3 separate regions of the Homo sapiens genome follow, and all the other regions are linked to region 1. Evidence: fine-mapped expression QTL. A gene starts in region 1. Each other region holds a variant in brackets. All regions are shown on one strand. Distances are from middle to middle.

Region 1 (8,051 bases):
GGTTAAGGCTTTACTTTAAACCCAAGTCACTTGGCACAGTGTCTATACTATTGTTACCTGCTTCAATGGTTGGCAGGTTGCCAGTGTTTTATTTTTAGTGACATGGTCTTGCTCTATCACCCAGGCAGAAATGCTATGGCACAATTATAGCTTACTGCAGCCTCAACCTCCTGGATTAAAGCAATCCTCCCATCTCAGCCTCCCAAGTAGCTAGGACTGCAGGAATTCGCCACCATGCCCACTAATTTTTTTTTTTTTTTGAGAGACGGGGGTCTTACTATGTTGCCCAAGCTGGTCTTGAACTCCCCAGCAATCCTCCCACGTTGGCCTCCCAAAGTGCTGGGATTACAGGCATGAGCCACCATGCCTGGCTGCCAGTATTTTATATACTGCTTCCTGAAACACTTGAATAGCAGTTTCGACCCTGTTAACAGGAGAAGGTGGATTGGAGTGGTGGATTGGAGTGCCTTATAAGAGATCTACTAAAAAGAAAAACATCAATAAAGCAGGCACAGGAAATCTATAAATAGAATAGAACAAGACCAAAGGAGGGATTAAGACATGGATCTACATGCCATATGGATCCACTCATTTCCTACAATGATCTGAAAATTTGGCTTTGAGTTTCCTGCCAGCGAAGGCACAGAGTAACAAGAGCACTTAAGACAATGATTCATGCTATCCAGAAGAAATAGGAATATGTGTTTTTCATGGGGGTGGGGGAGGGAGGGAAATTTCCACATATGAACATTTGGTAAGTAATTAGTTTTGGAGGTCTCTAAGCTACCATTATAACTAACAATTATTACCTTTCTTTATATGGCACTGAATACTTTGCAGAGAAATTTCACATAACTTTCTTTACACAAAAATCCTGCGAGGTAAGATTCCAGGATATTATTAAAGCAATAATGTAACCCTTATTCATGCATCTAAGAACCTAGTCTAACTGGAAAGGCAACACAAAAAGTAGAAAATAAGCAGAAAGATCTCTGAGATAGCAAACCAAATGGCAATAAGTGTATGCACAGAAAAGAGCCTCTCACTCAGAACCTATATTCTCTTATTTAACCTGAAATTCTAACAGGGTTCATTTCCTTCCTAAAACTGCAGTGGATTAAAAGTAACAAAACAGAAACTATTACAGAGAAGCACTCTGAAAGCCTCCTAGATGCGTACACAGGAGAGCAGAGGCAAGAACTAAAAACAATCAAAAGAGCAGTTAGTGCAAAAACAGAAAACCCTAAACACTCACTAAGTAGGATAAGCTCAGACTCTCTCCGCCCTGGATCCTGACCCTCCACGAATCAGTTCCTCACAAACCACCTCAGCCATCTTTCAGGAACGGAAATGTGATCCTGCTTGCCTGCTCCCAACTCTTGGCAACCCTTCATTGACTTTCCAGGCTCATAAGACAAAATCATTATTTAAAAACGGTCCACAAAGTCTGCCTGCCTCTCCAGTCTCATCTCACTTCGGCCCCACCTGCTTGGGCCTTTTCACATTTCCTTCCCTTTACCTGGAAGTGTCTCAATGCTGCCTCTCCTGGGGGATCTGAAATGTCATTTCCTTAGAAAGCCTTACCTAGTCCCAGAGTCCACATTAGGTTTTCCCGTGCACCTTAGCGCCTTTGCAGTTGAGAATTTATCACAGTTGCACTTAGTCTGATTGTTTTATTTGTTTGTTTGTTTTTTGAGACACCAAGGCTGGAGTGCAGTAGCGCGATCTCGGCTCACTGCAACCTCCGCCTCCCGGTTCAAGCATTCTCGTGCCTCAGCTTCCCGAGTAGCTAGGATTACAGGCGTGCACCAACACGCCCGGCTAATTTTTGTGTTTTTAGTAGAGACAGGGTTTCGCCATGTTGACCAGGCTGATCTCAAACTTTTGGCCTAAAGTGATCTGCTGGACTCAGCCTCCCAAAGTGCTGGGATTACAGGCGTGAGCCACCGCGCCTGGCCAGTCTGATAGTTGAATACCTATTTCCTTCAGCGTACTGTGAGCTCTGGTGGAAAAGGACCATGTCTGGCTCGTACATATGCCAAATAAGTATTCACCGGAAAAAATATGAGTAATGTCACAGGACAAGCAGACATCTTCCTAGTATATAATTTTAAATTTTACTAAAATCTTTTTGAGAAGGTAGCTATTGTTTTATTAAAGCAAAAAAAAATTACAAAGTACAATGCAAAATTCATATGAATTTTAAAGCTAAAACAAGACTTTCAGAATGCTTTAGGCTACACCCCCAGACTTCTCTAGAGACGTGCTTAAAATAATATGGAAACACGGTGTGGTAAAAGATCCATTTCCCAAGGGATCTGGATAACCAGCGCTTATCTTCATTTTACTGGAGAATACATGTGCGGAGAGGGCTTTGCAAACTACAAGGCTTTGTGCATTATAACATTATTATGGAAAAATCTGTGTTTCTAAGAGGGGGAATGATTTAGCTATTGCATTGCCAATTACAGGTGGGGCTGGCGCCAGAGCCCAGGCCTCCCGGGGCCTGTCTAGCCCACAGCTTTTCATTAATGCACAGCACTTGCCACCTGGTCCCTGCCGCAAAGGGTGGCCTCTCGAGTTAGGAGCCATATCTAGGGCGGATGGCCTGTGCTAGGCTCAAAGACACTTAAGTTCCGATCAACCAGAACTGAGGAGCGGGTAGGAAAACCAAGCCGAGCCTTCCTCGGCTTCACAATCCGCAGGCTCTCCGCTGTCCCCGGCGGGACTCGGCAGTTCCCCTGGAGGGCTGCAGCCCGGCTGTCTTCGCTCAGGCCCAAGCCCGCGCGGCTCTCCCCCTGGCGGAGAACTCGCAGGACTGCGACGCATTCCGGAGACGCCGTCAATCTCCGAATTTGAAGCGCAGGCGATATCTAAGGGGCCTGGGAAGCGGGAAAGCTCGGGAGTCACTCCGGAGAGAACACCCTGCAGGAGTCGACGCGGCTGCCTGGCTTCGTGGTCCTGCAGCGTGGCCCGTTGCTTCGCGCAGAGGTTGGCCACAGCTGCTGGCTAGGAAACTGGGGACCACCTGGGTTGCCACCGAGGAGGGTGGAGGCCCCCGTCAGTCCCCTCGGGGATGCAGCTGCATTTTCCCCTCCTTGCGTCCGGCCGGGAGCCAGAGGATGGGGCTGTGGAACCCATTCCGAAAGGCAGGGCGGGCCCTTCGGAACCCGGACGCGAGGGAAGGCGAGAGGCGCGGGTGTGCCGCACGCCCACCGGCGCCGGGGCAGGGGCGCTGCAGCCGGCGGCCCACGGAGGACATCAGCGGTGCCGCCGCCGCCGCCGCGGGCTCGCGGGCCGCGCGCGCACGCGAGTGGGCGAGGGAGGCAGGGGCGCTACTAGCAGGCGGCGTGCGCGCGCGCGCTCCCCCGCGCCCTCCCTCGCAGGCCCGCCCGGCCCCAGCGCGCGTCACGAGGGGCCAGCGAGCTAGCTGGAGGGCGGGAGGGAGGGTGGGGAAAGGGGGTGGGGCCGCGAGACCGGAGGGGTCCGAGCAGCGGCTGCGGAGCCGGAGCTGGGCGAGGGCGGCTGCGGTCCCGGCGGCGGCGGCGGCGGCGGCAGCTGCGGCGGGAGAAGATGGTGGCGCTGGAGGCAGCAGCGGCTGGAGCGGAGCTTTATTCCCAGGCTTGGCACCAGCGCTGTCACTAGCGCCGCCTGCTCCCGCGGGCCCGCGGACCCAGCTGTCAGGCAAGGTACCACAGCCAGGGAGGGGTGGGTGAGAAGGGGTGCCCGGCGCTGATGCGGCCCCCGACGGAGCCCGGGTCCTCGCCAAAGGGCGCCCCCGGACGCGAGAGGGGCTGCCTGGAACAATAGTGCGGAGGAGCGGAGGCAGCAGGCGACATCCAGGAGGCAGTGCCTGGAACCATCAGCTAGCGAGGCGGGGGAAGGCGGCGTTGCGAGCGAGACGCCTGGGGTCCGGTGCCCGCTGAGATGCCGGGCTTCGGGCGCAGCAGGCGGGCCTGATGACAGTCATGGCAGGAGTGAGTGTGTGAGAGTGTGTGTGTAAAAGGTACAGCAGAGGGGATGGGGTGGCGGACGGAGGTGTTGGGGGGTGACATTTCCAGGAATCCCCGCTAGGACCCCCTCATCTCTCGGCTGACTCTCCTGGAGAAAGAATGTGATGATGGAAACGGTGAGGTGGGCAGGATGCACTTGGTGTGTGAAGTGTGGAGGGAGGCAGTGGGATAGGGGCCGGTTTGTAAAATCCTGTATATGTGTGTGTACGCGTGTGGTTGCATCCACGTTCCCCAAACTGCGCCCCAAATCCAGAGATCTGCCGCTGCCCTTACTTGATGTCACCGGCTAAGACTGTGGGACAGTGTTTGTTATTTTGACCCTGCAACTCTGAGCACAGTGTCTGTTCTGCTCCTGCGTGTGGATGGCCCAGTGTAGGGATTCTCGCTTCCCCTTCCTCTGGCCTCATGACATGGGGATGTGGAAGTGAGCATGTTGCTTTGAGGCACATGGCAGGGAAATAGGATAACCGTTACACATTCTGGGCTTGCTAATGTACCTGGTTTTGAAGGGGCCTTCCATCCTGTGATACTACTTCTCTCCTTAGCACCTGTTCCATAAGGGTCTTGTACTCCCTGACTGTGCAGTTTCTATTGTTTTTCTCTTGTCTGACCAGAAGGAGAAGGATGTTGAATGATCAGATTCCTCTTCCTGTCCCCACAACTTTCAATGCTAGCTAGACCTTCTCCTTCCACATTTAAGCACTGAAAACCTTATGGCTAGAGGATGGATGGTCTTTGTGTTGGTTCTTTTAGAATGAACTCTGGAGGTGTATACGTATAGAGAGATGCGGTGGGGCGGGGGGCGGTCTTTTAAAAAGAAGAAAAATATCACACGGAGAAATGTTTGGTGCCCACTTGGTCAGCATCACACAGCCAGGGCGTTTTCCTCAGGAAACAGGATACTTTATTTCTACTGCTGGTGACATCCACTCTCCCAGCTGTCACAATAGCTAGGTGGTGCCGTGTATCATTTGGAAACTGAAATCTCCTGAGACCCACAGCGATGGGGTCCCAGGTCAGTAAAGTCCCTGCTTTCCTACCTGATAGAGCCCACTAGTAGGGAATTTGGAAAAATGTCAGGCTGGCAACAACTCACCCAGTGGGAACAAGGACACAGAAATGCATCCAGAGTCTATGGCTGTTTAATTGTCTCTGCGTGGTAAAGATAGGTGTGTGTAGGTAGGGTTGGGTAGAGGTAGGCAGGGAGATGGCATATTCATGTGTATCCAGGGCAGTGTGATTCCCCCTCACCTATGTTTCTCCTGCGGTATTCATAGGAATGAGTGCACTTTACACTTAATATCTCGACACTTCTTTATTAAAATGTTGTATGACTAGCTTAATCTGCTTAGGACATGTTTTAGTCATAACACCTTAAATTCTACTGCATTGTCGGAATCCAAACTGGCTGCCCGGTTCTCTTCGAAAAGCCCGTAGCAGTCATGGCTACACAAGTAAATATACAACATGTTGGCACCAGAGATTTATTTTTCTTTTTTAAAATTTTTGTTTTGCTTTCTTTTATGGGCAAAGATTGCATGATATCGTTGTGAAAATAATAAAACTAGGGCTATCCACATATGCTTTTTTTTCTTCCCATGTATCTTATTTAATGATATATAGACAAGGTGCTCTTGAAGCTGTCTATGTAAAGTAAATTTCCCCATGTTCTTCAAGTCAAGCCTTCTAAGATTTTAATGTGAGGTTGGTTGTTGGCTGTCATCCAAGATTTAAGGATAGATTTATAAAAATGAATTTTGAATCTTAGTTCTTTACTCTCTTATTTGTTATGCCAAATGTCTTTCTGAGAAAAGTACTTAGGGAATTTAAAAGCCATTCTAAGAGATTTTGGTTTAAAAAAAAGTCATCATCCTTTATATTTGCAAGTAAGACCAGGGATGTAAATGTCTCACAAGAAAGTTTAATAATATGAGGAATTACCAGGTAAATACCCTGTTTAGAGAAAGAGGAATTACACAGCAGCAAAATCGATGACTCAGGAATCAGTTCTTTTCTAATGTAAATGTGATCATTTTTATTTTTATTTGTCTTTTTGAGACAGGATCTTCCTCTGTCGCCCAGGCTGGAGTGCAGTAGTGTGATCATAGCTCACTGCAGCCTCAAACTCCTAGCTCAAGCAATCCTCCTGCCTCAGCCTCCTGAGTAGCTGGGACAATAGGCACATGGCACCACACCCAGATATTTGTTTATTTTTTTCAGAGATAGAGTCTCGCTATGCTGCCCAGGCTGATAGTTTTAAAAATGCAATATCTGGCTTTTCTAAAGATCGGACTGGTATAAGGTTAATGAGACAGCTCTAATAAATGGTGGTACCTTTTGCTGTGGCCTGCAGCAAGCCATTTTTTGTGCATGGATGCCTTTCCTTCACTTAAAGTAGCATCAGTGCTTTTCTCTTCCATTATTGAGCCTCTTAAGGTTTTTTGTTGTTGTTGTTTTGTTTTGTTTTGTTGTTATTGTGTTTGTTTGTTTCGGAAGACTTAGGGGTAAGAGATATTTGAAAATTGACCTCTGGGGCCAAAAGGAATTAACTGTAGTACCTTGGGGAGATAGGACTTTTATCCTAGAAAGAAGAAGTAATTGTTGCTAAAATTGAGAGAATTTCAAGCCGTAAAATCTGAAGTTAACTCTCTGGGTTACAATAATTAATTTGCAAACATTTGTTAATTGCCTCCCGCATCTCAGATCCACTGTACCTTTGGATAGGGGACAGGGAATGTTGAGAAGGGTTGGAGGTTCAAAGAATGCTAAGTCTTAGATCCTGGCCAGAGGTGGATCATGATCTAGAAGGAGAAAAGAGGAAATATGTTACTAACTGTAAAAATAGTGAAAAATGATTAAGTGCTGAAAAAGCAGTATTCCTGCAGAGCTGTGGGAGTTCACAGGGTACAAAGTGACTTCTGATGGAAGAATTAGGGAAGGTTACATGGGATATAGCATTTGAGCTGTGATTAAGGTGGCATTTGGGTTGGCAGAGAAGGAAGGGCATGCTTGGGGGAGGAACAGTGTAGCACAGGCCTGGCAGTGGAAGGTGTATGCCTACACAGGAAACAAAAAAATGGTGTGCTTTGGCTGAAGCGCTAGGAATGCCAAGAGATGTAATGAGGGATAAAGCAAGAAAGAGAGGTTTGTTCAAGGTGGTGGAGCAACTTGTACGCCAAGCTAAGGAGTGTGGATTTTGTTCAGTAAGGACTGGGGAACTATAGAAGATTTGTGAGGAGAAAGATTGACAGTATCAGAACTGTGCTTTGGGGCAATACTTTTGTAGTATTATGTTGGATGGAATGACATGGGAAAAGGCTGGCAGGAGGGAGACCAGATAGACTCTATTGTCAAAGTAGGGGAAAGATGGAAAGAGGCAGTGGGAGGCAAGAAGGGAACACACCTAAGAGGTGGTGTGCGGGAATTATCTGAGGAGCTTGAACAGTCACTGGAAAGTGAGGAAGGGAAAAGGGAGGCCAAAAGATCATTGTCAGGCTTAGCTGAGAGAGCAGTTGGGTCATTTTCAGAAAGAAGATATAACAGAGGATAAGGAAGAGGAGAGAAGTTTCTTTTTGAGCATGACAGGCTTGTCCAAGTTAAGGGACTAGAATACAGAGGGAGGTTAGAGCTACCAGGAGATTTGTAGGTCATCTGCTTAGGAGCGATTTTCATATCCCAGGAATCACTGATAAAGAAAATGAAGAAAGAAGAAGCAAAAGTAAGGATAGGATCCTTGAGGGATGTCTGTATGTTGGAGGGGAAAGAGAAAGAAGAGGACAGGAACCACGTTAAACAAGGGGCAATTGGAGAAAAATGATGGAAGTGAAGTGGTACAGTGTCATGGAAGCTGGAAGGGGTGAGGAGAGCCCCTGTCACTCACACAGCACACCCCATGGGTGACGGTGCAACCAAGGCAAAGCCATTGGATTTGACTCTTGGATTTCCTTGATTGTCTTTGTGGTAGGTGGAAGTGGCAGCCAGGGGCAAGGGTTGAAGGGAGGCGTGGGGGAAGGGAAATGGAAAGCAGTGAAAACAGAC
Region 2 (8,251 bases), 33 kb after region 1:
GTTCTCCAGAGAAACAGAACCAACAGGCTGTGTGTGGAGGGGGGAGGAGGGGTGTGTGTGTGTGTGTGTGTGTGTTTGTGGCGGGGGTGTGTGTGTATACACATATATGTATATATAGAGATCAGCTGGTTGATTTAGCTGAAGGAATTGGTTCGTGTGATTGTGGAGGTTTGGTAAGTCCAAAATCCACAGAGCAAGCTGGAAGGCTGGAGACCCAGGGAAGAGTTGCAGTTCAAATTCAAAGGCAGTCTGCTGGGAGAATTCCTTCTTGTTCAGGCGGTAGTCAGTCTGTTCTCGTAATGCCTTCAACTGATTGTATGAAGCCCACTTATATTATAGTGGGCAATCTGCTTTACTCAAAGTCTACCATTTAAATGTTAATCTCCTCAAAAAAAAACCTTCATCTGCAAATGAAGAAACCAACTTTATTTCTCTCTATCTCTCTCTATCTCTCTCTCTCTCTTTCACAAAAACATATAGAATGATATTTGACCAAGTATCTGGGCACTGTGGCTCTGCCAATTTAATTCATAAAATTAACCACTAGATTGCCAAACTGTTTTCCAAAGTGGTTCTTCCATTTTGATTTCCCACCAGCAACTTATGAGATTTCCAGTTGTTCTGCATCCTTGTCAACACTTGGAATTTTCAGGCTTTTTAGTTTTAGGTATTCTAGTTAAGTGGTAGAGATAATGCATTGCATTTCCCTGATGACTAATGATGTTGAGTGTCTTTTTATGGGCTTATTGTCCAATCATATCTTTTCTGTACTAAAGCATCTGTTTAAATCTTTTGGTTATATTTTCAGTGGCTTGTTTGTCATCTTATTGAGTTGTAAGGGTTGTTTATGTATTCCAGGTATAAGTCTTTTATCACATAGGTGTTTTGCAAATATTATCTCTAGTCAATGACTCATCTTATTTTCCTAACACTGTCTTTCAAAGGATGGAAGCTTTTAATTTTGGTGATGTGCAAATTATTAACTTCTGCTTTTATAGTTTGTACATTTTTTGTGTCCTGTTTAAGAAGTCTTCATGCCTGGGCAACATGGTGAAACCCCATCTCTACTAAAATACAAAAAATTAGCCAGGTGTGGTGGCGTGTGCCTGTAGTCCCAACTACTTGGGAGGCTGAAGCAGGAGAATCGGTTGAATCCGGGAGGCGGAAGTTGCAGTGAGCCGAGATCACGCCACGGCACTCCAGCCTGGATGACAGAGCGAGAGACTCTGTCAAAAAATAAATAAATAAAAAATAAAAGGAAATCTTCACCTAGCCCAAAGTTACAAAGATTTTTCTGCTATGTTTTCTTCTGGAACTTTTATAGCTTTAGCTCTTAAATTTAAGTCTCTGGCCCATTTTAAGTTAATTTTTGTGAATAGTGAGAGAGAACGATTGATTTTTTTCACATATGAATATTCAGTTCTAATACCCCTTTTTTGAAAAGATTATCATTTCCATATTGAATTACCTTAACAGTTTTGTTGAAAATCATCTTACCATATATGGTGGGTCTGTTTCTGGACTTCATTTTGTTTCTTTGATTTATATGTCTATCCTGTGTTAATATCACACTGTCTTGATTACTGTAGCTTTATACTAAGTTTTGTAATCAGGTAGTATGAGTCCTCCAACTTTGCATTTTCTTGTAGATTTTAGAATCAGATTTTAGCATTTCCATATAACTTTTATAATCTACTTGTCAGTTTCTACAGAGAAGTCTGCTGGGATTTTGATTGGTATTATGTTGAATCTATGGATCATTTGGGGCATAATTGATGCCTTAATAATACTGAATTTTCCAACCCATGAACATGGTATATCTTTCCATTTCTTTAGATCTTCCTTAATTTCTCTCAGCAATGTTTTTTTTCCTAAGTATGTCACGTTTTTAGTATTTTCTTTTTAATTTCAACTTCCAGCTGTTCATTGCTAGTATATTAAAATGTCATTGCATTTCATATATTGACGTTGTATCTTGTGACCTTGTTAAACTCAGTTATTAGTTTTATCACTTTGGTATATTCCTCGGTATTTTCTACATAGATTATGTCATCTGCAGATTATGTCATCTGCAAATGAAGAAACCAACTTTATTTCTCTCTCTCTTTCTCTTTCTTTCTTTCTCTCTCTCTCTCTTTCTCTTTCTCCCTCTCCTTTCCCCTCTCCCCTCTCCCCTCTCCCCTCTCCTCTTTCCTTATTACATGGGCTAGGACCACCAATATTGAATTGAAATAATTGAAATGATGAGAGAAGTGGTCTTTCACCATTAAGTGCGGTGTTAGCTACAGGTTTTTTGCAGATGCTCTTCATCAACTTTCCTTCTATTTCTAGTTTGTTGAGAGTTTTTATTATGAATGGGAGTTGAGTTTTGTGAAATGCTTTTTCTGAACGTATTGAGATGGTGAGTGTATATGTTTATTTTTACTAGCTATATAGCCTTGGAAAGGTCAGTTTCTGTCTTCTGAGAAATAGGGATACTAATACCTTTTCCTGTGGCTGTTATGTAATATATATAACATTCAGCATAGGCTCTGGTGGTTGGTTGACTCTGTAATATTATTATATGGATAATTATTAATATTACAGAGTCAAAATGTTGACTCTGTAATATTATTATATACATTAATTTTTTTAATTTTCCAAATGTGAACGTATTATTAACCAAGCTTTTGCAAATTATATGACTCCCAGCAATTCTAAACTTCTCCCAAGGAATACTTGTGCCCCAGATGAGCATTCGTGTCCTAAGCTTTCCAGATTTGCTTTATTTCCCGGGAGTGAGGGCTCACACTATTTTATAGTTTCCTAATCATAAGACACTGTATTCTAAAACTGTCATTGTTTCCTAGTAAGTTTTAAAGCAACATTTTTTGTTTAAATATGCACATATAATGTGTGAGTGTGTGTGTAAGTAATGGCTTTAGGAGTTGTACATATGCAAAATAGATGGGCATTACACCTGGATAACGCTTATTTTATTAATCTTTTCTGTTATCTGTCTTTTCCCTTAGTAATTTATTTGTTGAGGAAAAAATGGTTGATTTTTCCTGTAGGATGTTCTTTATCCCTAAAGTTTAGTCTGGGTTTTGCTGATTGTCCCCTGTACTGTCATTTCATATGCTCTCTGTTCTCTGTGTTTTATATAAATTAGTAGACAGATGTAGAAGCTTCAATGGACTCCATTTAGATGATTTTTGGCAATATTATTTCATAAGTGCTTTTTCTAAGTGTATTAATTTATTGGGATTTAAAAATGATGACATTCAGATTTTACTATTCCCTCATTTATTAGCTGGACTTCTATAAGG[A/G]GAAACACTTGTCAACTCTCTGGTTACTTGACATATAATTTATACTAGCAAGGCAGAGTAAATGTTTGATTCTTTCTTTTTATTTACCAGTTTTCAAAATAAGGAGTTGGTTTGCTCACACCCTCCAGGGGGTAACCAGTGAGAAAGGCAAGTTTTATTGTTACTATTGACTTTAGTACTGTGAATTTAAGCACATTTGATATATTTTAATCCATTTCATTTTGGACAGTAGGAGCCTATTAAAGGTGGCCCTGATTCCTTTTGACATACTCCTTGTGCTCTTTGATAGCTCCTTTGCTTCTGGTGTGATGAGATGTTCCAGGTTCATCCTTTATATTTTCTACTTTTGACCTGGAATCAGCTACTTCCCCTGAGAGGTTCTCTTAGTTTCTTTAAGTGAGAAATGGTATTTAATGACCTCAATCTATTGGGACTACTAGGTTGCTCATTATTTCTAGGCCAATTTAATGGGCAGAGTAAGATAAAATGCTTCACAAGTTCATATTGATCCTTCCCATTCAAATTCAGTACAACAGGATTACAACTCCCTTTTAAAAGAGAAAAATTCACATAGACTAATACAACTTCAGTGAGCCACAGAACTCAGTTGAGAATAGATGGATGAAAATAATGCCGAAAAAATGTCTTTTAACTGTAAACTATCTCTGTAAAATAGAAGTTTTTCTATTTCTAAATAATAATTTAGTGAACATGATGGGAGCTGAGGATTAGGTTATCATAAAAATCAAAACCTATATAAATTCTCTTATAGTTTTAGGGACCCTGAGAATGGGGCATGGACCCTGTTTTTTGAGAAGCTCTGTCCCTGTCTATATATTTCTGTTATTTTCATGTGACTTCATGGATTTATATTTTTTAATTTTTAGTTTTCAAAATTTAACTTTGAAATTTTAATCTTCAAAAATTTGATTTTCAAAATTCAAAATTTCAAAAACATACACCTCATATGTTTTTTCCATCAATCTTCTGAATGGGCACTGAGGCATCTGAAAGAAAAAGATTTTGCATATACTTGCCTAGACAGACACCAACTTTATCTTGTCTTAGTAAAAATTTTATGTGATTTTTAATCACTTCTGATTCATTTGCTGACTTGATACCTGAGTGGTTCTTTAAACTATTTAAACATGCACATGCCTGCATGCAAACACAAACCATCTGTTTAATCTTGTACACATAAATGAAGAGAGGGTCAGGGCAAGGGCTGTATTATTCACTTTATAAAGTATGCACTTGATGGCTCACACCTGTAATCCCAGCACTTTGGGAGGTCGAGGTGGACAGATCACCTGAGGTCTGGAGTTCGAGATCAGCCTGGCCAACATGGTGAAACCCCGTCTCTACTAAAAATACAAAAATTAGCTGGGCATGGTGGCGCATGCCTGTAATCCCAGCTACTTGGGAAGCTGAGGTAGGAGAATTGCTTGAACCCAGGAGGCGGATGTTGCGGTGAGCTGAGGTTTTGCCACTGCAATCCAGCCTGGATGACAGAGTAAAACTCCATCTCAAAACAAAAACAAAAACAAAAACAAAAACAAAATATGCACTTGAGCATTTCATTCATAAAGCTAGACACCCTAGTGCATTTAAAATATGTTACCTGTACAAAAATCTGTATACAGCTCTTTAGCAACATATCTCTTGAGTAAATAAAATTACTGTTCATCAGATGTGTTGTCTTTTGAAAGAAAGAAACAACACCATATTCAGAGGTTGCCAATGCTGCTCAGTTGTGAATTCTGCAAGAAGGCATTCATGGTAATGTCATGACTCATGAATTATGTGCTATATTTGAGCAGTGAGGTCAGCTGTTGTAGCACATAATTCATTATCTCACATTCATGATTTTTCTTCCTTTCTCTATTTCATATGTCCTGCCTTCCTTTTTTCTATGTAGAATTTCTCCTGTCTGGCCCAGTGTTGGGCATGATCCAGCTTTCCTATTAAAATGTAACTTCAACATTTATTTTTCATAATTGTCATTTTAAAAAGTATGACAGTTTTGAAGATATTATTTTATAGCACTTTTATGTGTTTTAGGTCCACATTAAACTGGCAGAAACTGTTATACAAGACAAGTACATCTTCTCTGCATTAGAAGTTGTGCTTGTTATTCAAACTGCTTCTCAGCCTGTGTCTGCTGTGCCACGGTATGGAAGCGTATTTCATCTGTTTTACCTATTTGAGCCAATGGTTTATCCCTAAAGCAGCCTACAAGGATTTATATTTTTTAATTTTTAATTTTCAATTTTTATGGGTACATAGTGGTATAAATATTTATGGGGTACATGAGATATTTTGATACAGCCATACAATGAGTCATAATTACATCACAGTAAATGGGCTATCCATCACCTCAGGCATGTATCTTTTCTTTCTGTTACAAACAATCCAATTATAGTGTCTTTGTTACTTTAAAAGGCATAATAAATTATTGTTGACTGTAGTCACCCTGTTGTACTATCAAACACTAGATCTTATTTATTCTATCTAACTATATTTTTGTGTCCATTAATCATCCCTACTTCATCCTCCCCAACCCTTCCCAGCCTCTTGCAGCTTTCATTCTATTCTCTATCTCTATGAATTCCATGGTTTTAATTTTTATCTCCCAGAAAAAAGTGAGAACATGTGAAGTTTATCTTTCTGTGTCTGGCTTATTTCACTTAACGTAAATACCTCCAGTGCCATCCCTGCTGTTGCAGATGACAGGATTTCATTTAGGATCTCATTCTTTTATATGGCTGAATAGTACTCCACTGTGTATATGTATCACATTTTTCTTTCTTTCTTTCTTTCTTTCTTTCTTTCTTTCTTTCTTTCTTTCTTTCTTTCTTTCTTTCCTTCCTTCCTTCCTTCCTTCCTTCCTTCCTTCTTTCCTTCCTTCTTTCTTTCTCTCTCCCTCCCTCCCTCCCTCCCTCCCTCCCTCCCTCCCTCTCTCTCTCTCTCTCTCTCTCTCTCTTCTTTTTTTGAGACAGGCTCTCACTCTGTCACCCAGGCTTGGGTGCAGTGGTGCCATCATGGCTCATTGCAGCCTCAACTTCTCCAGGCTCAGGTGATCCTCCCACCTAAGCCTCCCAGGTAGTTGGGACTACAGACACATGCCACCATGTCCAGGATTTTTGTACTTTTTGTAGAGATGGGGTTTCACTGTGTTGCCCAGGCTGGTCTCAAATTCCTGGGCTCCAGTGATCAGCTCGCCTCAGCCTCCCAAAGTGCTGTGATTACAGAATGTATTTTCTTTATCCATTCATCTGTTGATGGACATGTAAGTTGCTTCCAGATCTTGACTATTGTGAATGGTGCTGCAACAAACATGGGAGTGCAGATAGCTCTTTGATATGCCAATTTCCTTTTTGGGAGTATATACCTAGCAGTGGAATTGCTGAATCATATGGTAAGTATATTTTTAGTTTTTTGAGGAACCTCCAAACTGTTCTCCATAGTGGCTGTATTAATTTACAGTCCCCTCAACAGGACATAAGGGTTCCCATTTGTCCACATCCTCAGCAGCATTTGCTATTGCCTGTCTTTTGGATAAAAGTCATTTTAACTGGGGTGGGATGCTACCTCATTGTAGTTTTCACTTACATTTATCTGATAATCAGTGATGTTGAGCATCTTTTCATAAACCTGTTTGCCATTTGTATGTCTTCTTTTGAGAAATGTCAGATCCTTTGCCTGTTTTTAAACCAGATTATTAGATATTTTTCCTATAGAGTTGTTTTAGCTCTGGTTATTTATCTGCCATCATATGGGTAGTTTGCAAATATTTTCCCTCATTCTGTGGCTTGTCTCCTCACTTTGTTGATTGTTGCCTTTGCTGTACAGAAGCTTTTTAACTTGATGTGATCACATTTGTCCATTTTTGCTTTGGTTTCCTGTGCTTGTGGAATATTACTCAAGAAGTTTTTGCCTAGCCAATGTCTCAGAGAGTTTTCAGTGTTGGGTGCATATATATTTACAGTTGTTATATTGTCTTGCTGAATTGACCCCTTTATCATTATATAGTGACCTTTGTTTCCTCTTACAGTTTTTGTCTTGAAATATATGTTGTCTCATGTAAGTATAGCTACTCCTGCTTTTTTTTGGTTTCCATTTACATGGAGTATCTTTTTCCATTCCTTTATTTTCAGTCTGTGTGTGTTTTTATAGGTGAAGTGTATTTCTTTTAGGCAACAGATCATTGGGTCTTGTTTTTTTCATCCATTCAGCCATTCTAAGTTTTTTTATTGAATTGTGTCCATTTACATTAAATGTTATTATTGATAAGTAAGAACTCACTCCTACCATTTTGTTGTTTTTTTCTGGCTGTATTGTGGTCTTTCCTTCCTATCTTCCTTTTAGTGAAGGTTATTTTTATCTGGTGGTGTGTTTTAATTTCTTGCTTTTTTTGTGTGTATATGTTTTATGTTTTTTGATTTGGGGTTACCATGAGGCTTGTAGATAATACACTCATTATTTTAAACTGATCACAACTTAACACCAATTGCATAAACAAACAAGTAAAGAGAAAAGTAATAACAACTGTATGCTTTAACTTCATCCCCTGATTTTAAACTTTTTCTTTTCTGTTTATATCTTATTGTACTATGTCTTGAAAAGTTGTTATAGTTTTTTTGACTAGTTTATCTTTTAGTCTTTCTACTCAAGATATACTTATACACCACAATTATAATGTTATAATATTCTGTGTTTTTCTGTGCACTTACTATCACTAGTGAGTTTTGTGCCTTCAGATGATTTCTTATTGTTCATTAGCATACTTTTCTTTCAGACTGAAGTACTTTCTTTATCATTTCTTATAGGATAGGCCTGGTGCTGATGAAATCCCTTAGCTTTTGTTTGTCTAGGAACATCTTTATTTCTCCCTCATGTTTGAAGGATATTTTCACCAGATATGCTATTCTAGAATAATTTTT
Region 3 (8,251 bases), 50 kb after region 1:
CCTAGAATGACATTTAAATGGTAGTTAATGTTTGAGTCTCCCCCAGTATCCAAGTTAATCCCCTTATCAAGTAACTCAGATAAAGCCTTTTTGGACCATCAGGGTAGCACTGGATATACTGCCCAAAGAATGTGCTTAAGAATTAATCTGCTGAATTTATTAACAGAGAGTAATTTAGGCAGTGATGAACTCAAGCCCAGTGACATATGTTGCTCTCTTGTATATTCAAGTTGATGGTTGTGCATTGAGTCAAAACCTCTTAAAGTCGTTGGAATATGTTTCAAATTTTAGTAATGCTTTTCTAATAATATGCTTAATATTAAATTTTACAAAGAACAAATGAAAAGCTTGAGATATATTTTAACTAAATTAGCCCAGCAGAGGACAGTGATTTAAACTAATTGAGTCTGTGAGTGGCATATCTCTAAGCCTAATTAATGCTTGAACCCTAAGATTTCTTCAAGATTGAACATTAATCAGGCAACCTCAGTGTTCTCCATATTCACCGAGCCAGCAAATCTTTTTGGGCCTCCTATGTGCTAGGAACAGTTCTAGGGACAAGGGATGCTGCAATGCTCAGTTCAGACAAGATCCCTCTTCCTGTGAAGCTTGTATTTCATTTGAGGAAGAAAATAATGAGCAAAAATGTAAATGTTCAATAAAACTATCAGCTGCAGTTAAATCCTATGCAGAGAATTAATTAGGGCATCATGACAAAGAGTGATCATACAGCTACATTAAACTGGGTGGGACAAGAAGGTCTCAGTGAAATATACAGACTTTGAACAAAGATCCCATTGTCAAAAAGGAGCAGTCCTGGGAAAACATTCCAGAAGGAACAGTGGTGCAAGCTCGATGTGTTTGAAGACAGGTACAGGCTTTTGTGGCCAATGTACTAGGAATGGGGAAAGTGGTCCCAAATAAAGACCATGTTGTGCAGAGCCCTATAAGACAGAGGAAGGAATTTGAATTTATCTTAAGCACAGATAAAATCCAAAGATCTCTGGAATGTGAGCTCCATGAAGGAACTATGGAGGCAAGAAACCTATTAGCAGGCTGTTGCTGTGGGTTGGTTGTTAGCAATTAAATATCTGTAACAAAGGCTGGTCATGCCCTATTTTTCCTTTTCAATAGGAATAAAAACCAGGAAAAACATGTCTCAGTTTGACAGTGGAGAAAGAGAATTTGATGCACTTTTAATTTATTGTTGATGTCTATCTAAACTCACCTTTGCACCTGGGTTTCTCTGCATTTGTGAGAACTTGAACTGTAAATCATCATGCTTTGTTTTAAAACCCTTGCTCAAGAACCAAGTTTTGGTCATGCCATTGTAAATTTGTTGCAAAGACTGATGTAATTTCTTGGAAACTTGACTTCAATGGATTGCCCTCTAAAATTAGGACATATTTGAATGTCTTCAAATGAGGCAGGTCTAATTCAGGTGAGAGTGAGAAACCAGTCATTTTGACCTGCTGGGCACCTCACCCAAGCTCTGTGGAGTCATGGTGGAGGTGACTATATTCAATACCTAGTGAGGATACCAGCAGGGACTGAGCATAGCCCCTCATGCTTTCAAAGAAAAATGCTGTTTTGTGGGCACTTTCTTTAATAATTAATAATAGAAGAAAATTAAATTTTTGTAACTATAAAATTTGTTTCAAAATTGAATGTGTTTTTCATTTGGGATCTTGCTTGGGTCTGAGCAAACTGCCTGGCACAGTAAGAATGAACATTACTTGCTCTGTAAGTGTGTAGGATGTTTTAATCTTAGGCATATTTCTGCCCATCCTTATGTTGGTCTTATGCAGTGTGGCTGCCTATTTAAAACTCACTGTATTGTAAATTCGTGCTGCTCTTTATTATATTTAGAGACTGTTTGATTTTCACTGAAAGCTGTCCCAAACTGCACAGTATCATAATCTGAACCTCTGGGAACTTTTTATTTCATATTCGGAATCCTCAGAAGCAATTTGCCAGCATGTTCTAAAGATAGGTTAAAAATGAATGAAAATGGAAAAAAATGGATTATGATGATTTATGTTTTAAATTTTATGTTGCTTTTACATTTCTAAAAATACACTTATACCTACCTCATGTATATCCATGTCAGAGAGGTATTACAGCAAGATAAGAGAGGTATTACAACACACAAAGGGAGAATTAGACGTTAAGATGACCTACTCAAGGTCATAAAGCTAAAAGCAACAAGCAATCCACCAGTTTTGTTTTGAACATCCTCAAGAGTGTCAACTGTGTTCTCCAGTGTTGGGGTCAAATATGTGCATCCACATGGCCAGGGAGCCTGTTAGAATGTGGGTTCCTGGACTCCACCCCAAGCCTCCCAAACCAGACTCCCAAAGTTTGGAGTTTAGGAATCTGCATTTTTACACACCCTCCCGAGCTGGTTTTTATATGCATTAAAATTGAGAACAATTGGTGTAAAGAACAATTAGATCTAGTCAGGGCCAGCTCTTGCAAAATTGTGAGGTTGGGGAGCATTTTCTTTGACCCATCCACTTCCTGCTTTAAATCGTCTTCTTCCCTCTGTGACTTCAAGCTTGTCCCCAGCTGTCTTCTATCAAACCCTCTTTGAGAAGAGGATATGCAAAAGCTAAAAGTACCACTCGTCCATAAGTTTTCTGCTTTTTAACAGAGAGCAAGTCTTTAAAAAAAAAAAGAAAAAAAAGAAAATCTATAGGAGAAGTGGAGGAGGCACCATTTGGGAATAAAGGAAAATGAGGCTCTCCTTGAACCTGCAGAATCACCCTTATCTATTTCATTGCAGCCTCAGGTCAGTAAACCAGAGTAAATGAAAGCGCAGTAGACTCCCAGCACTCTCCCCCAAGATCCATGTTTCAAAACAACTGTAGATTGATAATGTAGGTTTTTGGGTGGGGTGCCTATGAGCTGCTCTTAAACTTGCTGTTTTCCAGAGTTTTCAAGTACAATTTTGCCATTTGAGCCAAAGATCATGTCAGATCTTTCTAGTGGGACCCCTGGACAGTCTTTGGAGAGGACCCCTAGCTCTGCCAAGAGTGTGGACACTTGAATTATGAAGTCATTCTTGCAGATTCTGTTGCTGCCTGTGCTAATCATGAAGACAATGCATGCTGTTTCTATGTGCTGTGATTGCCAAAACCACAGCTGATAATGAGCTGCTTTCCAAACATCAGAAGGGTTTGTCATGAGAAGTTGGGAAATTATACCAATCATCCCTACCAAAATTTCCAGGGAAAAATCTTTAGCTTGACAGGAATTTAGTTCACAGGCTCTGAATAAGTTGTTCTTGGACGTACAGAAGTACAGACACATTGCAAGGCCCGAGGCTGCAATGACATAGATGACGTGAGGGTGACTCTGTAGGTTCAAATAAGGCCTTATTTCCCTTTATTCCCAAATGCCTCCTTTACTTCTCCAATAGATTTTCTTTTCTTTCTTTGTTTCTTTTTTTTTTCTTATGACTTGGTCTCTATTAAAAAGCCACTTGGAATAAAAAGGTATAAAAACAGACTTTGATTTAATTTGCACTGGCCTTAGATGCTCTTGTTACTGAATGACTTCAAAGACCAGGAACATTTTCCAACAGCACTTCCCTCTGCTAATGGAAGAACCCATGAAACCTAGCCAGACCTACCTGCTCCTATAAGGAACTAGACACAGACATGCTCATATTTAATCACCTTTGGAGATTAAGCCCTTGGTGTAGGATTCATTTCTTTGTTTCACTTTCTAGAGATGATTTTGCTGGAGGAGATGTGTGGCACACCTGAGCTTTGCTCTGCCTCTTACACACTGTGAGTCATAGGGCAAGTGGGCTTATTCTGCTGGTTCTTATTTTTATCATCTTTGACAGGAGGAGAATGGATTTAATCCATAGATCTCACATATGGGTGACATCCCCAGATTCCTGGGGCCCATCCCAGACCAATTGAGATAATTTCAGAGTCTGGGCTTAAGGAGTCTGTGTTTTTTGGAAAGCTCCCCAGTTGATTTTGATGCTCCTCAGGTTTGGTGGCCACTATCAGGTGATCTTTAAGATCCTTCTGGCTCTGATGGACTGGGAGGCAACATCTATGCTATTTATCAGTTTGCCATCTGGGACGGGAGAACATGGTTTGTTGCTAATCATAGCCAACACTGCGTTCCAATTAACTGCTTTATTTCTGCCAAATGCTATGGTTTATTCACTAGTAGGAAGCAGATTAAAGATCACAAAACATTTGCCTTAGGAGGCTTCTGAGCCTGACTCGCTTGTATTTTTCTGTTATATTCATAAAGAAGAGTTGTAATGATGGCCAATACCCACTTAGTGCCTTGTGCCAGGAACTGTTCTATTAATAAGTACTTGATATATATATGAATTTATTTGATCCCACAACTGCTGTTGTGAATATTGTGAAGCTGTTATTGTACATGTTTTACAGATGTGGAAACTGAGGCACAAAGAGAATAAATAACTTGCTCATAGAC[C/T]CACAGTTAATAAGTGATGGGCCAGGACTTGAACCGGAGCAGTCTGACTCAAGAGCCATGCACTCAGCCACTGCACCATACAGTTTCTCCATGGATAAGAAGTTGTCATTGGCTTTTATGCTTTTACTCTGGATTTCTAGGCTGGTTGACTGGAAAGGTGGTTGGACATCACTCAACATAGGGCCACAGAGAGGCCACAGGTTTGGCAGGAATTTCAGTGGTGTTGAAGTACCAGAAAACAAGGTAATGAAGTCATTATTGTGCTACATTTAATATAATTCACGTAATCTTACATGAAGTGATACCTGTGGAGCTAGCACTTTAAGAAATCCCACTGGCATCAAGATGACTAGATGGCCAGGCAGCCAGCACCTTTAGGTTTCCGTATTTTTAGTTAAATTCCCTTCACTGGTGATAATAACAGCTACCATTTTATGAATGCTTACTTTGTGCCAATCTCTGATTTTTACCAAAAGTCCTATCCAACTCCATTTTACAGATCAGGAAACTGAAGCACTGAGAGGTTGTGTAACTTGCCCACCATGCTACAGTTAATATAAGGCAGAGCCCAGGTTCAGTCTCAGCTCCCGGGCCTTTGGATTTAAGCCCACATGCAGGACCGCCGCATGCTGCTACCCAAGCCTTGCTGCTGCTGCTTCATTTCTGGAGCTTCACTGTCGTCCAACTGTGCAGCTCCTTCGTGTGACCGCACCAGCCCGAGCCTGCACACTGTAACACCTCCCTCCATGGCATCTCCATGCAGAGATGGAGTGAATTTAAATGACTGGGAAAGGACCCTGCAGCCACTTTCGGACCCCTTGGGTTTCTCCTTGCTATCTGTAGAAGGAAGAGGTGGCACTCTGTCTCTCAGTTTTGTTTTGTTTTTTTTGAGATGGAGTCTCGCTCTGTCGCCCAGGCTGGAGTGCAGTGGTACGATCTCGGCTCACTGCAACCTCCGCCTCCCGGGTTCAAGCAATTCTCCTGCCTCAGCCTCCCAAGTAGCTAGGACTACAGGCACATGCCACCATGCCCAGCTAATTTTTGTATTTTAGTAGAGACAGGGTTTCACCATGCTGGCTAGGCTGGTCTTGAACTCCTGACCTCAGATCTGCCTGCCTCGGCCTCCCAAAGTGCTGGGATTACAGGTGTGAGCCACCATGCCTGGCCGGCACTCTGTCTCTCTGACCATCAGTCTCTAGGGATAAGCTCAACCTCACTGGCATGCTGGCCACAACCCATTTTCCTAGCTTAGTGTGTACCTTATATCCTCTCATTTTCTTGCTGAAGACTGGTAATACCAATTTGCAGGGGGAAAATGCGGCTAGAATTTATTTCAGACTTTGCCCTGGCTTTGAGAATTAAAAAAAGAAAACGACTAGACCGTCCTCAGGAGAAATTGGAAGCTACCAGTACTAACTGCCAGATCTAACGTGGTGAGGGAGGAAGAGGCAATGCTGGGAGCAAGGACCTAGTTTTCCAGAAGACAGACAGGGCTTTGAGACCAAGATGTTAAGGGAAGACTGTTTTCAGTTCAGTATTTAATTGCTTGTTTTGGGTATTGGGAATCTTTTGTTCCCTCATGTTCTAGAGATTTCAGGTAACTTTTCACGTAGAAACCGAGAATACAAATTTTTATTTTTATCAGAAAATGCTGGCTGTGCGAACATGGAATGGAAAAGTTGCAGTTTATGTCATTCAGCAGAACATAATGTGTGTGTATGTGCATCTCTGTTACATATGTGGGGGCAGTCTGACTGCCTCTGTCAATGCGAATAATTAATTTAGACCACATGCATGAAACTCCAGAATTTAAGACATGACTCTGTGTTATGCTCAAACTTTCTCATAAGGCAGGTTTTATTGTTTAAGCAGGGAAAAATTCAACTTGGCTTCTCTGTTTTTCCCAATCCAAGCACAAGTGAGTTGGGGAGGGAGCCTGTGTCTGAATAACTGATTTTTTGTGTGCTCTTTGAGACAATGGTAATAATGATGCCCTGCCTTTGTATGGCTCTTGATAGTTGGCAGAGCCCATCTGCATACTTTGAGTTTTAAAACACCCATGTGAGATAAGCAGGAGAGAGATTCATTTGTTCTTTATGGCTGAGGGAATAGAGATTCAGAGAGGTTAAGCAGTTTGCACAAGGTCACACAGCTAGTAAATAGTAGGGCCGAAATAGCAAATGTGTTTATAGTATTTATGTGTCTCATATTTCCTTCCCTAATTTACAAAGACCTTTCCAGTTGCTTCTATAGTTCTGTCAGTCTTCATGAATGACTCAGAGTGTGTTTTCAAAGTAATCTGTATATTATGGGGTCATTTTCATGAATGTAATTTCTTTTATTATGGCTTTTTAAGATATCTGTTTCCTTCTCTCCACTCCTAGATAACTTCCTTGAGAGTGGGGACTTAAATTTCCTTTCAATTGCCTCAAAATAACAAATACTCTGTTTCATTAAACAGAGTTGACTGATGTGGTTTTGTAGTCCACAATGCTACTTAGAACCCCCTTAAATGAAAAGAACCAAAATATGTTAGGTACCTGCCATATGCCAAATACTTCACTAGCTGCTCTGCAGACTGCATCTCCATTAACTTTTCACACAGCCCATGGGGTAGATATTGTCCTTATTTTGAAGATAAGAGGTTTGGAAAAGTTGAGAGACTTAGACCTAAGATACCCCAGCTAGTAGGGGGCAGGGTTACGATGTAAATCCATTTCTTCTGCCTCTAACAAGTTTTTACCCTTTTCCTCTATGTAATGTATCTTTAAAAACAAAGGCTGAAAATATATTGCTAAGAATTTCTTATGACAAATCTTGAGCCCTCACCTCTCTTTGTTTCAGTGAATTCACTCTCAGGCTGGGTTCTTTTCTGGCCTGAGCCATGATGGCTCCTTGTCTCTATCTGGTTCTGCCCTACCTGGTGCCCTTGTCTGATTCTACTTGTCATAACCGTCTGATTTTTCATAGCCACATCAGCCTTGGTTGAGTATGACTGGCCGCCATCTTGATTTACTTCATACCTCCGTTTCATTGGTCTCTTTCCATGGAAAGTATCATATCCTTCCTCATAGAACAATTATTCAAGTACTTGCCTTCATTAGCATCCTTCCATATTGTGAGCTTTGAGTTGGTTGGAAATTATTCTACTTACACTTTAATCATTCCAGCATCTAGAACAGTGTCTCTTGTGCATCGCGCAAACACACTAAATGTTGAGTGAATTAAATTGAGTCAAGAGAAGCTGAGTGGTTCCTAGAAAAGTCACTGGTGTCAATGCATGGCTTCTGTAGGGAGCCAATGAAGAGTCTGAGAAGACCTGGGGATGTTCCACCAAGTTAGTGTCTATTGTGTGTGTTTACCAGAGTGCCTGAGCTGTGTTCAATTTCTATGGACCTGTACTAAAATGACTAGCTCGGAAATGATAAATATGCAACTTGCATGGCGCCATTATCCCATCCCACACCTGAGGCAAACAACACTATTCAGTCATGGTACTGTTCCTACACAGTATTCCAGGCATACATTACCAAGCAATTAAAGTTGAGATTTAAGAAAATGTATTTGCTGCTCTTAGGTTAGTCTACCTAGGAGGGCTGTGTGTGTGTGTTTAAGCTTGATGATGAAGCATGGGGAGGCCAGAACTTTAGCACTGCTAGCTTTATGTCCATAAACACCCAAACTTGATCTTCTGATTGGCAAGAAAGTAAGATTTAAAAGGAGGGAAAGTCGCACAACAGTGTGAGTGTACATAATGCCATTGTATATCTAAATATGGTTA

The links. PIP is the estimated chance that this variant, and not a neighbour inherited with it, causes the effect.
Region 2: its variant is fine-mapped to the expression of APBA1 in whole blood (TOPMed, PIP 0.97).
Region 3: its variant is fine-mapped to the expression of APBA1 in whole blood (TOPMed, PIP 0.94).

The regions. Positions count from the first base shown.
Region 1 is chr9:69,667,791-69,675,841 of GRCh38, reverse strand. APBA1 (amyloid beta precursor protein binding family A member 1) reads left to right here and starts at 3,471. Exons shown (of 13, transcript NM_001163.4): 1 at 3,471-3,689. RefSeq lists silencers at 3,394-3,443, 3,624-3,703.
Region 2 is chr9:69,634,844-69,643,094 of GRCh38, reverse strand. The region is part of intron 1 of APBA1 (amyloid beta precursor protein binding family A member 1); the gene reads left to right. Among named protein-coding and RNA genes, the nearest start is that of APBA1, 33 kb to the left of the region's middle. The variant A/G (reference allele first, on the strand shown) is at 3,309.
Region 3 is chr9:69,617,785-69,626,035 of GRCh38, reverse strand. The region is part of intron 1 of APBA1 (amyloid beta precursor protein binding family A member 1); the gene reads left to right. Among named protein-coding and RNA genes, the nearest start is that of APBA1, 50 kb to the left of the region's middle. The variant C/T (reference allele first, on the strand shown) is at 4,471.